3 linked regions of the Homo sapiens genome follow. The protein of the gene in region 1 interacts with the protein of each later gene in a pairwise test. Each region holds a gene or a part of one and is shown in the gene's direction. Other genes may lie near its edges.

Region 1 (3,500 bases):
ATAGGAACAGGTGCTGAGCCCGAAGTGTGAATGCAGTCACTTAAAAAACAACAGACTGTGAACAAAAACATGCATTTTGACACCTGCTTTACTTCAGGAATGGAGGTGGCAGATATAAGGGATGGGAGAGTTGAGAATTTTCAGCAAAGAGTGAGAATCTCAGGTAGGGGGGTGGTCGCGATGGTGGAGGCCGGCTGGTACTTGGGCCTTTCAGCTGGATCTGGTTTTCTAGATAAGAACTGGCCAAGTTGCCAGATCCAAGGCATTGGGCTGAGGCAACAGGAGGTTCTCAGGATGGGGATACCCAGCCCTGCCACCCTCATCCCCAGTCACACTGCATCTCACACCCTGAGGCCCACTCTACCACTTTCCTACAATCCAGCCTTTGCTGACAGTGCCCCCATATGTTCTTCCCTCACACTCCATCCTCACAGCTCAACTCTCCCCATCCACAGCAAGCCCGAGGTTGGCTAACTTCCCCTTCCCAACTAGCTGCTTTTCACATCTTTGCACCCCAGGGCAGGGGCTGGGTGAGCAGGCTTTGAAGGTCTTTTGGGGCCAGGGACAGTTGGGGCCTACCTCGAGCAGCAGGCTAGGAAGAGGGGGGCATTTGTTTTTGGAGTGTACAGGACACTCACTGACTTACGGGTCAGCACAACTCACCCACCTCCCATTGTCCACCCTCTCCCTGAAGACACCTCAAGCTGCCTGCTTTCCTTCTTGGTTCTTCCACAGCTCACCTGGTGGGCAGGTACGGGCCAGTTCTCTGCCTAGGCCAAGGGAGGAAGCAGCTCAAAGCCTGGTGGTGGAAATTGTGGGGCCTGCCTGTTGGTAAAAATTAAATGGAGAATCCAGAAGCCCTGGTTGCCTTCCCACCAGCTTAGTGTCCCGTCTTCCCGCCGGCCCCCACCTGGGACAGATGCCAGGGGCATTACTCACCTTTTCTCCTGCAGCCTTTCCACCCCCAGTGTTCTCTTCAAGACGGACTAGGAATGGGTCTGGGGAAGGCTAGGGAATGGGGTGCTATGGGACATGAATGTGCACACGTGTCTGCTTTTGTGTGCTGTGTTGGGGGGCAGGTACCTTCTGGGAGCTGGGATGGGGGTGGGGGTGCCAGAGAGACAGCGGAGCAGGTCTCTACAGAACCTGCCTAGCCAGGGTGGGTGGAGCTGGGTGGGGCAGGCAGGAGTGATTCCAGGTTTCAGAGGGGGAACAGAGTGTGGGTGTGTATGCGTATGGGTGGGTATTTTGGTGTGTTTGCGGATTTAGAGGTCCTCGGCCTCACCCCCAGCCTTAGACTGAGGGAAATTCAGGACGTAGGTGGAGAGGGGCTTGGCTCTGGCTTCCCCAACTGCTTTTGAGGTAGAATGCAAGCTCAGGTATCCTGGCCAGGAGCCCAGTCTGTGGGCCCTTCCCCTGCGGTGCACCCTGCACTGGGGTCTGCTGGTGAGAAGCTGCTCTGGAAGCCTAGATGCCTGGATGACACAAGCATGGCCAGGATCCCACCCCTCCTCTGCCACTCAGCCCAGTGAGGAGAAGGATCCTGCCCCCACCCTGGGGCTATGAGGATGGTGAGCTCATCTCTGGGGCTGTCCTGGGAGAATGCCTGGTTAACAGGGCGGGGGTGGGGCACCTGGTGCCAGCTCCTGGGCTCCCTGCTCTGCCCTTCCCACCCCTCAGCCCACCAAGATACAGCTGTTCTCTCTGGCCTCCTGGGCAGCACTGTCACCCAAGGACAGCCTTTTTCAGGGTTTAGGAATGAGGGTCAGGGCAAAATCTTCATCCTATTTTTGGTCCAGGGCTGGAGCTGGTCCTTGCCCACTCTGTACCTTAGTCTTTTCGGTGATAGCAAAAGCCCAGCCTCTCTGGATGGGTGGCTTGCCCATAGCCCAAGGCTGGATGGGGATGAAGGAACATCAAGGTTCTTAGTTGTGGTAGATGGATGGGTGCAGGAACCACCCCTTTTGGGGATAGAGGCTCTTTGGTTCTGGCTGTCTTAGCTGAGGCCTGTCTAGTCTCTGTCTCTTTGTCCCTGGTGAGAAGAGGGGGCAGGACGGAGTCAGCAAATCCTCTCCTGTCGTGGCCCTCTTGCAGTTGTGGCTACTCAAGGAACCAGTGTCCAGAGCAGTCTCATGGAGAAACCTGGTCTCACTCCAAGAGGAGCACTCCTCAAAGTCAGTGTTACTACGATTTTCCAACAATTAGAGGAGGCCAGAAATGGGCTGCCGTAGAAGTAGTGGCCATGGGCTAGTCACCTTCTCTCTCTGGGTCCCACTTTTTTATTTGTAAAATTTGAGGTTGTCCCTCTAAGGCCCCTTTCAGCTTGGTGCTGGGAACTGCTGAGAAGAGGGTGGTTCAGCCAGCTGTGTCCTCCTGAAGGGAAAAGGGAAAGGGAAAGGGAAAGGGGAAGGGGTGTCAGGGGAATGATATGGGCATAGTCAGAGGTTCAGGTACCTTCCTTCCGTCTGTGGAAGCTGTGTTGGATGTCTGCATTTTCAACCCACACCCATCAACTTCAGCCCCCCACCAGGGCCTGACAGCGCTGCCTGGGTTGAGCACATCTGTGAAACTCAGGGGAGGTGTGTGACAAGGAGGAAAACCAAGCAAGGCTCTGAAGTGCGACAGCTGTGTCTCGAGTCTCTGCTCTGCCTTGCACTGGCCTTAGGCCTTGGTGAGGTACTCTGACTGTACTCTGAGCTAGCACGGAGAGCTAGCTCCTGGGATCCTGGGCTGGGAGGTTGGACCCTGGGCTTAGTTCTTGCCACCTCCATGGCTGAAGGTGGGCTTCCAGCACTTTGAGTGGAACTTATATTGATATCCTTGGACCTTGGCACTATGGATGGTGATGATTAGGGAGCCAGGCAGCTAGGGGGTGCCCACATGCATACCCCTGCCCACGGGCTGCAGTGGGAAAGGGGTGCAAGGCATATGCAGGAAGACCCAGGCTCCTGAGTAGGAATCGGAGACCTTTAGTGGGCAGGGGCCCACAGACGACTCTTCAGGCAGGTTCTGAAGCAGTAATCACACCCATTTCCCTGTGTTCAGGCAGAACCACCCTTCCCTAGTCCCTGACTACGGAGAGAAAAATGGTCCTATCAGAGATCTCTGCCCCTGTCTGAGGAGAACTTGAGGCTTCTTGTCCTCTTTCCCATCGTCTTCCCGTCTGGCTGGAAGTCTTTTAAAAATCAAACCCAAGCACCCTTCTCAGCTGCTTCCAGCCCTGTCCTCGGTGGAGATGAGGAACACTAGGTGCCCTTTTTAGGTACATGTTTTGCTCTGTCCCTGCCCCCCTTTTCTTCCGTGGCCTACTCACCCTGGTTTCCACAGCTCTTTCTCCCAGCCCCGTCTGCATCTATGCTCTGTCTCATTACCTCACCCCAGGCCTAAAGTAGCCGGGACTGGGCTGCGGGGTGGGCCCGGGCTAGAGCAGTGGCAGGAGGTGGCGTCTGGAGCTGCCTGCGTCTGGTCATCGGCCCCCAGCACGCGCCACACATGGGGGT
Region 2 (3,471 bases), about 90 Mb from region 1:
TTTCCAACAAAATCCCAGAGTTTTTGCTTGCTCTTTGAGGTTAAAATCAAAGATTTTTCACTCAGGATTAGCCTAGATGTAGAACAGCGACTGTATAATAAAGTTGAGTTCAAAAAGTGTATGAATTCAGTTATGGTCTGGAAAATTAGCTGCCATTTTGTGATGAAGTGTTTGGTTTTTCCTTGTAGAAACTTAGTGTCATTGCGCATCAACTTAGAAAATGTGAATTGATTAAAAATATGTGATGGATTGTGCAGCATGCTTACATTTGAAAATGGAGATTGTGCCTTTAAATACTTAATCAAAGGACTCCTGACCTTCAAGTACCAGTTTGGGCATATTACTGGAGATCCAGGTTGAAAGGTATTGAAAAAAAAGCTCTGTATCTTTGTATATTCAGTTGTCAACATGGAGAAGCCACCTTTTAAAAAAGATCAGTTCTGTAAAGCATAATGCCTACTACACAGACATCATTATTCTACTTAAAAGTCTTTTTTTAAAATTCCAAATACTTGTGGTAGTAGAAAGCAATAAATATTCTAAAATGAGGGATATTGGTCCTTTTGTGACTGAGCTATATGATAAACTAAGGAAAACTACAGAAGTTATGTCTATTAACTCTTTAAGGTACATGATATAGCAAATAATCATTTGTACAACCTCATAGAAAGTTGAGAGGATTAATCAAATTGTTTCAAAATTTTTAAGGAGCCAAATTTAAATTCTCAATACCCTATGAGATTTTTTAAACTATTTTAGATTCTTACCAGAAGAATGCATAGATGTAGTAAAACCATTAAATACAGTAGTATCTGGTGGCCTTTCTGTGTGGAGGAGCTCGTTTGTCCAAGGTATGATCTACCAGTGAGAAGATCAGTGCCAGGTCACAGAAAAAGCTAATCATTTTTAGTTTAATCCTGACCAGCTAGTCTTCCTCCAGGCATCAGCTACCTGATTTTAAAGAGACCATATTAGAAATGAAAAGCAGCAGTCTCTATCATATGTTAAATTCAAAGGCATAGCTGCTCGTGAAGACCCTATTATGTTTTATTTGCCTATCGGAGAAAGAGATCTGCCTACCTGCCTTTAGGAAAAAGCAATGCTTTATGTAGCTTCAATTAGTCCTGCATCAGGTTATTCTAATGCTTCCTACTGCAAAAACCAAGCCCACAAGTCTCCAATCCTAAAAGTCACTAGAATATTGATATAAGGAATTCTGTGTCAGCAGTATCTCAGTATTCAAACCTCTGTTTAGGGTCCTGCATGTACTATCAAACAGCAAGTGATAGAACATTCAGGCGTTTTATTGGATTTCAGAATTCAGATTCAGAATTAAGTACTCTTGGGATAAAGGAAATTAACGAGCTTTTGACATTTCAAGAACTCATTGAGATTGTCAAAGGCTTCAGTAATGAACTCTAACAAATAGATCCAGAAGTCATAAGTGAGAAAGAAAACAAGCATGTCTAGTGAAATCTGTCCAGTGTACGTAACACTGCACAAAGAGCATATTTTATTCAGACCATTTGGATTCAGATGTACCCTAAAGACAACTATGCTATAATGGCTTGTCTCCTACTTCCTGGCCTCTAGCCCTACCCATTGCCCAGGTGGACGTTATGTTTTTAGTTTTTCCTTTGTGGGTGAGGGAAGAAGAGGACATCAGGTGAAGTGTGCCATTACTATTTGAAAACTAGCTCTGCAGGAAGGGTTAAATCAAATCCTTTACAGGGTGACCTTCCTACATCTCCTTAGAGCAACTGCATTTCAAAATAGGCCAAAGCTGAAGTCATAGGAATGAGACATTAATTGTAGGTTTTCAGGAAAGCTTCGGAGACACGGCAGGTACAGTCTCCTTAGAGCCTTTGAAAATACAACATGTAGGTCCTTCTCAGATTATGCTGAAACTCCAAATCCTTGTTAAAGGTTTTCCTGGACTCCTACAGTCTGGTTTGATCAGTTTATTATTAAGTACTGAATGACAGAGAAGGGTACACAGGGAGGACTTGTATCACATGAAGTAAAATAATTATTTCCTTAATGAGAAACTTAATTCTAGGGTACTTACAATAGCTGCCTTATTGGGGGAAGGGAGGCATAGATTTGCAAATGGTGGGTTTTTTCGTTTTTTTGTGTGTTGGAGTAATTGAAAAGATACATCAAGCAATAATAAACTAGATGTGCAATAATCTTGTCGAGTAGTATGTGCTGGTTTTGGAAAGGTGAAAAGAAAATTGTTACATCAGGCTGCTTTTATCAAGCTAAGCATGGGCATGCCTTTCCAAAGGGTATATTTGATCCTACAGTTAATTTTAACATTGGGCTGCAAGCTTAACCTCATCAGGAGTGGAATTAGATTTTACAAAGTTCCCCTTATCCAAACTACAGCACGCTTACTACTTTCTCCTTCCATTTTCCACACCTCAGCCCCCTAGGACCAGCTACTGGTAAGTCATTTTGTCCATTTTCATTGATCTGGCCACATAAGGAACATCCTGTTTCTTTAAATCCTCAATGCTTAAATTGCCATGTAGAAATCAACTCCCTATCAATTTTCTACATTTAATCCTTGGCTTCTTGTCATATTTTCATTTTTCTGCACTGGTTCCCATGGCAACAAGTCTGTTGGCAGAGAAAGTATGACTCTGCTTTTAGCCTTCTGCACAAGACAAAATCCTTCTGGTGATCCTCAGGCAAGTATAATATAAAAAGTCAGGAATTGACTACAGTTCCCTTGGCTAATGCCTCTAATCCTTTACTCTCTTGCATGCATTTTCCACCTTATTCCCAAACCAGGCTTGAGAAAAAAAGCATTCAAGGGCCCTGCCCAGTATCTCTTTACTGATACAAGTATTCAAAGGCCCTCCTATCCAATCACAGCCACAAAGACTGAATATTTTGGTTCAGATGGCTTTCCCTTCTCCCTAAGTGTCAGTGACTTAACTGACATAAATGCATAATTAATGACAAGGACCACTGGGAGCAGCATCGAGAAGCAACTTTCAGTCATTTTTCTATAAACAACTTTCCTCAGTTCGCAACTGAGGTGTAGCCCAGGGAATAAGTATGTCCTGAATTGAGCCTTAAATCAGTGACTAATAAGGCAATGGAACACTCAAGCAGATTTTCCTCTAATGAGTAGTTAAGTGGCACAGGAGGAGAGGCCAAGGAGTCATCCCAGAGTTCTAAGCTCATAAAGAGGAAGAGATAACAAAAGATGTAGATAAGAGGACATTGTTAACTGGTGGCTGCAAATGAGCAAGGGAGCTTCATTCAGTTGGGACAATTCAGGGTTCAGGTACGAAAAGGGTATGAAGCCTACTGAAAAATAAGGAAATGGAGCATGGAGAAAGAAAGGGTTTTTAAGAGTTAAGTCAGTAGAAAGGGAGCCTGCAAATGAGACAATAGCTTCATGCAGACTTTGGCCCAACTCTGTCTACAAATACTTTTGCAAATAATGTTTCTCTTAAT
Region 3 (3,500 bases), on another chromosome or scaffold:
GGTCAGTTTTAAACAGCAAAATCACCAGTAAAAAAACCCAAAAGGTAAAAAGTAAGGCACTACATAGAATGCAAAAAGGCCACTTGTTTACAGTATGAGAGCTAAAACAAAATGAGTTGGTTTGTTTGATCTCACCTGGAAATGTGCATGTCTTCAGATGACTCAAATTTTTCACTGCTCTAAGTATGTCTACTAGATGACCAAGAAATCCCTGCAGCTGTTTTGAGGGTTATGAATAAATTTTAGCAAGTAGTCAAATTTGCAAATAGAGAATCCTTGATGGAGGATTAGCTACTTAGGAATATATCTCTGATAAGGCCTTTTTTTTTTTGGTAGCAAAACCACAATACTATTTTAACACTTAGAAAAATAATATCAGAGTTAAATGAAAAATACGTGCAGTTTACAAAAAGAAAAGTGCAAATGAAAACTTCAAGGAATTACTATTTCACCTGAGATTGAAAGAGCAAAAGTTTGGTAATACTACATGTAGGTCCACATCCTTTATGTGAAACCTTAGGTTAAATATACTATGGGGCCAGGCGCAGTAGCGCATTCCTGTAATCCCAGCACTAAAGAGAGGCATAAGCTGGAGGATAGCTTCAGCCCAGGAGTTTGAGACCTGCCTAGGCAACATTAGGAAGACCTCATTCTCCACATAAAGGGGCAGTGAGTGGGAGGGTGTAGAAAAATATGCTTTGGGATTCCGAATTTTTGGAATTTTGAAAGGGTATTTAGTACATATACTATAATAAGTAGCATCGCTGGCAGGCTATGGGACAAGTGCTCCATAATCAATATATCTGAATAGTTAACAGCAAACTATAGATATTCTCCCTAAGTAAGACTAATAAAGAGTGCAAATAGTCTTAGGTCAGTTCAGGTCAGATTTTGCTGTCAAATGAGCACAGGTTGGGGCAAGTTTACAGAAATAAAAAACATGAGGGCCTTAAATCTGCATTAAATATTTTCTTGTATATTTATACAGTAGAGCCATTTAAAAGAATGAAATTTTATTTACTCATCAAACATCATCTTGAAGATGAAGTAAAAAAGACAAGCAGAACAACATTATATATATAGTATACTACCATTTTTAAGCAACAGTTTTACAGAAAAGTGGGAAGTTGCATATATGTTTATATGTTGTATATAGAATATCCCTGAGAAGGCTATATGACAAACAGAAAAAGATTACCTTCCTGGCTGCAAACTAGAAGCTGAAATGGGAGAAGAGACTTTCTTTATTCACTCTTTGTTATTCTTTGAATTGTCATGTGCATATATCACCTTTTTAAAAAAAATTTAATCTCAAAATGTAGTAGGATAATGACTGATGACTCAACTTTCCCAAATACTATCTTACCTCTTTCTGAAAATTATGAATTTAAAATATTCTGATACCCTCTAAAGTTACTTTATATGTAAAAATTCAAGCTAAAACCAATGGCAGAATTTTTGTTCCTCACAAATTTTACCAATAAACTATTTACAGATAAGTATTTTTTATTTCTTTACCAAGTCTCTGCCTCTGAAACAAAATTCTGTGTTAAGCTGCTTTTAAAAATCATAATCGGCCGGGTGTGGCTCACACCTGTAATCTCAGCACTTTGGGAGGCCAAAGCAGGAGGATTGCTTGAGCCCAGGAAAATATTTAAATTCTTATTTCCACTAATTAAAAGATAAATACATGTAACTGTTGAACATTGCCATGAAATTTCTTCTACAGATAAAATAAGAAATTGTTAATAAAGATTTGTTTTACTGACGGCAGTTTATTGAGGTTAGTTGTATTCACTATAACAGTTAGTGGATGATTTTCCTATTCCTGATTACTGTAAAAAGTAATGCAAAACATTTTATTTTCATGCCCTTTTCTTTTTAGATGGAAATTCCTTCTTCCAGCATTATAAATCAGTACATTGCTTGTCAAGGGCCATTACCACACACTTGTACAGATTTTTGGCAGATGACTTGGGAACAAGGCTCCTCTATGGTTGTAATGTTGACCACACAAGTTGAACGTGGCAGAGTAAGTCATAGTTGAATCTTACACATTGCTTGGACTTTTTTCAAATTATACTGCACATATGTAGTCAAAATATTCATATTTATTTAAGCCTTTGTAACCTTTAATCTTCTTTTCTTGTGGTTTCTTGTTTTAAATCATCATGTTTAAGTGCATAAAACTGTGACTAACACATAAATAAATGTGACATAAGTGTTAGCCATTACTGTCATTGTTATTTAAAGGGATTAATATACATTTGTTAAGGGTCTTGTGTCTAACGTATATACAGAACTCTACAGTAAAATAAATAATGCAATTTAAAAATGGGCAATGGATCTGAATAGACAGTTCTCCAAAGAAGATATACAAATGGCTAAGAAGCACACGAAAAGGTGCTCAACATCATTATCAGGGAGATGCAGATCAAAACCTTAATGAGACTTTATATCCTAGAGGATGGCCAAAATAAAAAGGACGTATAAAAACAAGTTCTAGGGATGATATGGAAAAAACAGAACCCTCCTATTGTGGGTTTGTAAAACCATCCAGCCATTTTGGAAAACAGTCTTGTAGTTCCTCAAAGAGTTAAACGTCGAGTTGGTATAACTTAGTACTTCCATTCCTAAATCCAAAAGAGTTGAAAAGGTCTGTCCACACAAAAATTTGTACATGAGCATTCATAACAGCATTATTTATAATGGCCAAAATGTAGAAACAACTCAAATATACAAATAAAATGTGGTATAGTCTTATGGTTGGATATTATTTGGCAATAAAAAGGAACGAAGTAGTGATACATACTACAGCATGGGTAAACCTGGAAAACACTTAGCATAGTGAAAGAGGTCAAAAAGACCACATAGTGTATGATTGCATTTATATGAAATGTCCAGGATAGGCAACTCTGTAGAGACATGAAGTAGATCAGTGGTGGTCTAGATCTGGGGTAAGGATGGGGGAACGGATGAGGAAGAATGAACAATGACTACTAATTGGTATAGGGTTTATTTTGGGTGTAATGGGAATGTTCTAAAAGGGATTGTGGTGATGGTTGCACAGTTCTGTGAATATACTGAAAACTATTGTATACATTAAACGAGTGAACGGTATGGTACATGAATTACTTGTCATTACAGCTGTTTTAAAAAATCTTAAGATTTAATGAGGATTTTTGCTGCCTCAAAATATAGCCAGATTACTTACTATTAAAAAGGGAAAAAAGTGACAAAGAAAAAATGTCGGCTGGGCGCAGTGGCTCACACCTGTAATCCCAGCACTTTGGGAGACGGAGGCAGGTGGATCACCTGAGGTCAGGAGTTCGAGACCAGCCTGACCAATATGGTGAAACCCCGTCTCTACTAAAAATACAAAATTAGCCAGGCTTGGTGGCACATGCCTGTAATCCCAGCTACTTGGGAGGCTGAGGCAGGAGAATCGCTTGAACCCAGGAGGCAGAGGTTGCAGTGAGCCAAGATCGTGCTATTGCACT

Evidence for each region. The genes of interacting proteins can lie anywhere in the genome.
Region 2: the proteins of VANGL2 (region 1) and LRRC7 interact in a two-hybrid assay, tested with the Homo sapiens proteins (one large-scale study listed by BioGRID).
Region 3: the proteins of VANGL2 (region 1) and PTPN4 interact in a two-hybrid assay, tested with the Homo sapiens proteins (one large-scale study listed by BioGRID).

The regions. Positions count from the first base shown.
Region 1 is NC_000001.11:160,407,064-160,410,563, forward strand, and holds part of VANGL2 (vang-like protein 2), read left to right. Parts: intron 1-740; exon of another isoform or gene 741-825; intron 826-939; exon of another isoform or gene 940-1,192; intron 1,193-1,392; exon of another isoform or gene 1,393-1,571; intron 1,572-3,500. UniProt on the Homo sapiens protein: Involved in the control of early morphogenesis and patterning of both axial midline structures and the development of neural plate. Plays a role in the regulation of planar cell polarity, particularly in the orientation of stereociliary bundles in the cochlea.
Region 2 is NC_000001.11:70,137,922-70,141,392, forward strand, and holds part of LRRC7 (leucine-rich repeat-containing protein 7), read left to right. Parts: 3' UTR 1-3,471.
Region 3 is NC_000002.12:119,958,922-119,962,421, forward strand, and holds part of PTPN4 (tyrosine-protein phosphatase non-receptor type 4), read left to right. Parts: intron 1-1,885; coding exon 1,886-2,032; intron 2,033-3,500. UniProt on the Homo sapiens protein: Phosphatase that plays a role in immunity, learning, synaptic plasticity or cell homeostasis. Regulates neuronal cell homeostasis by protecting neurons against apoptosis.